Homo sapiens: one gene and its partner. The gene in region 2 interacts genetically with the main gene of each other region. Each region holds a gene or a part of one and is shown on either strand. Other genes may lie near its edges.

Region 1 (2,964 bases), on a different chromosome or scaffold from region 2:
AAATAAAAAATTAGCCAGTTTTGGTGGTGGGCGCCTGTAGTTCCAGCTACTTGGGAAACTGAAGTGGGAGGATCACTTGAACCCGGGAGGCAGAGGTTGCAGTGAGCCAAGAGGGTGCTGCTGCATTCCGGCCTGTGGGACAGAGGGAGACTCTGTCTTAAAGAAGCTTCAAAGTTATAAATGGGAACTTTTGCCTTCTGATACATAATGTTTGACTGTTTTTTTCCCCTTTTCTAGAATCTGAATCTGAAGCTGAAGAAGGTGACTGAATTTTGAAACTACACCCTCAGTAAAGCAAACAGGAGTTGTAGATAAAATGTCATGTCTCATGTGTCCTGGTTCTTACATCTTCCTACCTCCCTGTATCAAGCATGATATAAGGGCTTTCATGGCAAATTTTATTTTAACTGTTTCTATGGTTGCTGGAAATGTTGGGTTTAGTTTCTAAAACCATGTTTTAAGTAGCTACAGGAGCTATAGATTTGAATCTAATGTTGCATTAGTCTTTTCAGTTATCTTCTACCTCCTGTATTTTCTACTGTAATAATGTAATTTAAGGCCTTCCACAATGAACAGTTCACTTTATTCCCTGGGTTTTCTATAAACAGTTTTAAGGATATGATTTGGTTAAAAAATAATTTGTTATAAAAATTCTGTTTGCAAATTAAACTGGAAAAGTATCCAGAGTCTCAAAAGGCAATGATTTGTGAGATAATATGGCATGCCCGGAGCCCTGCTCATCAATGAAAAACCCATATGTAATAATCGAATTCATTTAACATGAATCTTGAGTACGTGGACCATTGCTTGCATGTTAACTTTTTGTTTTGTTTTGTTTTGTTTTGTTTTGCATTTTTAACTCCAGATATCCTAAAGCTCAATTGTTTGGTCTCTGGTTTTCATCCTTAGAGAAGCCATGGAGAACAGACTTGAAAAGTTTAGGAAATCATAATGTGGCAGAGGTGGTGGGAAGAAGAAAGTTGAGCTTTTTCCCCTTGAGAAACTTCTGCATTTAGTTTCTATCTTTCCAGGCAAAACAAATGGGTATTCTTTTCATACAACCATTTTCAAATGAACCTTAGAAAAGTCTTAACATTTAAGGTATTTTATGCACAGAATACACTTAGATTGATAGGAAAGAACTCGTAATGGAGTTTGAGTAAAGAAAATGACTGATGTACTAAACCCAGTAAAAATTGTTGAAAATGTTAAAGGTCAGCATGTTCTAATTGGGAATCTAGATATAGCTTAGATTTCCTATTGGCTTAGAGTATTTGCTATAACAAATGAAGTGCAATGACAATTATATATTCCTACTCGGTCATACTGGACTGGCTTCGTTCTCTTAATATACTCAGTAATGACTCAAGCCTCTGGCTATTAACATACCCTAGTTGCCGTTTTTTAATTGCCATGAGCCAAATACTTCTTGGTATACAATTGATCCATTTATTTTAATGGCTGCCTTTTCATTTTCATCTTTTCTTGCTGCTACCCATCTATGTATGTAGTCATTGGGGGGAAAATGTAGCCACATTTTTTATGGGAAGACTTTGTGTTAAAAGTGAACATTTTGAAGGTTTTTAACTGGTGAAACTAGCCTGGAATAATGCCACCAGAGACTGAGTGGAAATCGCCCCTTTTGAAGGTGCCATTCTTATGAGCCAAAAGTTTGTCATTTAAAAGTTCATTTTGAGGGAATAACATGTAATATAATTTGAAATAAAGGTATAGTAACCTTAAAAAGAACATTATAACTGATTGTTGTGAATGGGGTGAATTTGTTAAAATGAGTAACTTTGATAAAGTTTTTCATGCACAGGCAAAATGTATTCACTAGATTTCTACGTAGTGATCTGCTTTTACTTTGTAATTTGTAGTTCTCAAAAGACTTTTTTTTAAAAAAATAAAGTCCATACTTACACTTAGGCTTTATACATCAGTCTTTTTTTTTTTAAATTCCATGTTAATACCTAGTGGTATTGTATGTTGTGTGTTCAGATGTCTTTACTGTATCTGTATACCATTAAGTAATAATTAGACTCCCAAACTGTAAACCACCTACACAGAATTCTGGTGTAGCTAAAACTACATTAATATTTCTACAACCAATTCATTGCATGTTTCTTCCATACAAAGTGTGCCATTTTATACTGTGTATAGTGAAAAAGTGTGTCATCTTCCAGAACTACATTATTATCTTTGATCGTAGTTTGTTTCTTCATAATGACACTGTAGTGTTTACTTAGTAGAACATTATAGTAAGTGGATATCACTTGTGACAGTAATAGTGTAAAGAAAGGGAATGCTTTATAAAAAGATTGCAGATTCCATTCCATATAAAAAGATTCCATTCTGAATCTTAAGTGGTAATTTTAGAATTCAGGTGCCAGTGCCAGCCTATGGCCTCAAGTATGTAATTCTTAATATAGATGTTAAATTGTACTTTTAATTATGATTGGATAAATGTTTTTTCTAACTGTCAGTTTCTAAGGCTGTCTCCTTAGAAACTAAATGAGTTTTTAGAGCTGGTTGTAAGTTTCTTAGCCTTACTCTGTGAGTTATAGATGTTATTTCATTCTATATATAGATGTTTATTCCATTCTTATTTAAAAAAAAAAACCTCCATATACCAAAAATGCTACAGGATATTTTGAAATAGCATATTTTAGTTAGGGGAAATGCATGTGACCAAGAGGTTGGACTTCTAATTCAGTTTTTCAAAAGCTTTTTTCCATTATCATACCCCCAGCCTTTTTAGGCTTTTTTTTTTTTTTTTTTGAGACGGAGTCTCGCTCTGTCACCAGGCTGGAGTGCAGTGGCGCGATCTTGGCTCACTGCAAGTTCCGCCTCCCGGGTTCACGCCATTCTCCTGCCTCAGCCTCCCGAGTAGCTGGGACTACAGGCGCCCGCCACCATGCCCGACTAATTTTTTTGTATTTTTAGTAGAGACGAGGTTTCACC
Region 2 (3,500 bases):
TCTATTCCACTGGGTTTATTTCTGGACTCTCAATTCTATGCCACTGATCTACACATTTATCCTTATACCAGTACCACACTGTCTTTTTATTTTTATTTTTTTGAAATGGAATCTCGCTCTGTCCCCCAGGCTGGAGTGCAATAGCACGATCTCGACTCACTGCAACCTCCACCTCCTGGGTTCAAGGGATTCTTGTGCCTCAGCCCTCCCAAGCAGCTTGGACTACAAGTGTGCACCCCCACGCCCGGTTAATTTTTGTATTTTTGGTAGAGACAAGATTTCGCCATGTTGCCCAGGCTGGTCTCGAACTCCTGTCCTCAAGTGATCTGCCTGCCTTGGCCTCCCAAAGTGTTGGGATTATAGGCATAAGCCACGGTGCCTGGTGACGTTGTCTTGATTAGTTGTTTTATAGTATGTCTTGAAATCACAAAGCGTGAGTCTTTCTGCTTTGTTCTTTTTCAAGATTTAGCTATTGTGGGTCCCTTGCGATTCCATAGGAATTTATGAATTGACTTGTCAATTTCTTTTTTTTTTTTGAGATGGAGTTTCGCTCTTGTTGCCCAAGCTGGAGTGCAGTGGCGCGTGATCTCAGCTCACCGCAAGCTCCGCCTCCCAGGTTCAAGCGATTCCCTGCCTCAGCCTCCCGAGTACCTGGGATTACAGGTATGTGCCACCACACCCGGCTAATTTTGTAGTTTTAGTAGAGACAGGGTTTCTCCATGTTGGCCAGGCTGGTCTTGAACTCCTGACCTCAGGTGATCCGCCTGCCTCGGCCTCCCAAAGTGCTGGGATTACAGGCATGAGCCACTACGCCTGGAGACTTGTCAATTTCTACAATGAAATAAACTGGGATTCTGACAGGGATTATGTCAAACGTGTAGATCAATTTCCAAAATACTGCCAATTTGACAACGTTATGTCTTATGATCCATGAACAAGAGCTATTTTCTATTTATTTATTTATTTATATCTTCTTTCTTTTAAAAATGTTTTACAGGCCAGGCACGGTGGCTCACACCTGTAATCCCAGCACTTTGAGGGGCCAACATGGGAGGTTGCTTGAGGTCAGGTTCAAGACCAGCCTGGGTAACACAGGGAGACTCTGTCTCTACAAGAAATTAAAAAACAAACAAACAAAAAAAAAAAGCTAGGGATGATCGCGCATGCCTGTGGTCTGAGCTGCTTGGGAGGCTGATATAGGAGGATCACTTAAGCCTGGAAGGTCTAGGCTGCACTGAGATATGATTGCACCACTGCACTTGTTCTCACTTCAGTGCAAGTCCGAGAAAAAAAAAAATCAATTAATTAAATATTTTAAAAGGCCAGGCTGGGCGCACTAGCTCACGCCTGTAATCCCAGGACTTTCAGAGGCTGAGGCGGGTGGATCACCTGAGGTCAGGAGTTCGAGACCAGCCTGGCCAACATGGTGAAACCCCCTCTATACTAAAAATACAAAAATTAGCCAGGCATGGTGGTGCACACCTGTAGCTCCAGCTACTCCGGAGGCTGAGGCAGGAGAATCGCTTTAACCTGGGAGGCAGAGGTTGCAGTGAGCCGAGATCGCGCCACCGCATTCCAGCCTGGACGACAGAGTGAGACTCCGTTTCAAAAAAAATTAATTTAAAAAACAAAACCAAAAATGTTTTACAGCTTTTAGAGTATAAGTTTTATACTTTCTTTTACTAAACTGTCAGAGGATGGAAAAAAAGATACCTCTTTTGTTATAAGTATTTTTATTTTTTAGGTTATTGTAAATGGAATTTTCTTAATTTCCTTTTCAGATTGTTCATTCCAAGTGGATACATTTACAACTAAGTTTTGTGTAATGATCTTGTATCCTATAACCTTACTAAACTAATAATTTATTAGTTCCAATACTTTGGTAGTGGATTCCTCAGGGTCTATATGCAAGATCATGTCATCTGCAGAGATGATCTTACTTGTTCCCTTCCAACATAGATGTATTTTATTGCATTTTCTTGCCTAATTGCCCTGGCTAGAACCTCCAGTACAATGCTGAATAGCAGTAGTGAAAGTAGACTTATCTCTCTTTTTCCTAATCTTAAGGATAAGCATACAGTCTTTCACTATTTTGTTTGTTTGTTTGTTTGTTTTGAGCTCTGTCGCCCAGCCTATTGTGTGCAGTAGTGCTATCTCAGCTCACTGCAACCTCTGCCTCCCAGGTTCAAGCAATCCTCCCACCTCAGCCTCCCAAGTAGCTACAATTATAGGTATGCACCACCACACCTGGCTAATTTTTTTTTGTATTTGTAGTAGAGACAGGGTTTCACCATGTTGGCCAGGCTGTTCTTGAACTCCTGACCTCAAGTGATCCCTCCAACCTTGGCCTCCTAAAGTGTTAGGATTACAGGCGTGAGCCACTGTGCCTGGCCTCAGTCTCACTATTATGAAGTTAGCTGTGGGTTTTTCATAACTGCTGTGTATCAGGTTGAGGAACTGCTCTTCTCTTCTTAGTTTATTTAGTGTTTTTATCATGAAAAACATGCTGAATTTTGTCAAATGCTTTTTCTGTGTCTACTGAGATGACAAGGTGATTTTTGTTTTTTATTCTATTGATATAATGCATTACATTATTTACACTAATTCATTTTTGGATGTTAAACCAACCTTGCACTCCTGGAATAAATCCTGCTTGTTTATGGTATATAATTATTTTTATATGTTACTGGATTCAGTTTGCTAGTATTTTTGTTGAGGATTTTTGCTTCCACATTTGTAAGATATATTTGTCTATGGTTTTCTTTTCTTGTAATGTCTTTTCCTGGTTTTTGGCAACAGGGTAATACCAGTCTCATAAAATTCGTTTGTAAGTATTTTCTCCTCTTTTTCATTTTTGAAGACTTTGTGAAGAACTGTATTAATTTTTCTTGAAATGTTTGATAGAATTCAGTGGTGAAGTTATCAGGACCTCTAGTAGGTACAGGCCTGGGCTTTGCTTTGCTTTTCTTTCTTCTTTTTTTTTTTTTTTGAGATGGAGTCTCACTTTGTCACCCAGGCTGGAGTGCAGTGGCGCAATCTCAGCTCACTGCAACCTCCAACTTCCCGGGTTCAAGCGATTCTCCTGCCTCAGCCTCTCGAGTAGCTGGGACTACAGGCGCACTCCACCATGCTCGGCTAATTTTTGTATTTTTAGTAGAGATGGGGTTTCACCATATTAGACAGGCTGGTCTTGAACTCCTGACCTCGTGATCTGCCCACCTTGGCTTCCCAAAGTGCTGGGATTACAGGCATGAGCCACTGCACCCAGCCTCTTTTCTTTTTTTTAAGAGACAGGGTCTCACTCTGTCACCCTGGCTGAAGCACTGTGGCACAATCATAGCTCACTGCCTCCTCAACCTCCTGGGATCAAGTGATCCTCACACCTTAACCTCCTGAGTAGCTGGGACTCCAGGCTCACACCACCACGCCTAGCTGAGTTTAGATATAGTATGTATATTTTAGAGTTGGGGTCTCTCTATGTTGCCCAGGTTGGTCTCAAG

The links. Genes that interact genetically often act in the same process or in processes that back each other up.
Region 1: changes in NF2 (region 2) and BZW1 together harm fitness more than expected from each alone (negative genetic interaction), as found in Homo sapiens cells (one large-scale study listed by BioGRID).

The regions. Positions count from the first base shown.
Region 1 is NC_000002.12:200,821,910-200,824,873, forward strand, and holds part of BZW1 (eIF5-mimic protein 2), read left to right. Parts: intron 1-237; coding exon 238-269; 3' UTR 270-2,964. UniProt on the Homo sapiens protein: Translation initiation regulator which represses repeat-associated non-AUG (RAN) initiated translation probably by acting as a competitive inhibitor of eukaryotic translation initiation factor 5 (EIF5) function.
Region 2 is NC_000022.11:29,610,133-29,613,632, reverse strand, and holds part of NF2 (merlin), read right to left. Parts: intron 1-3,500. UniProt on the Homo sapiens protein: Probable regulator of the Hippo/SWH (Sav/Wts/Hpo) signaling pathway, a signaling pathway that plays a pivotal role in tumor suppression by restricting proliferation and promoting apoptosis.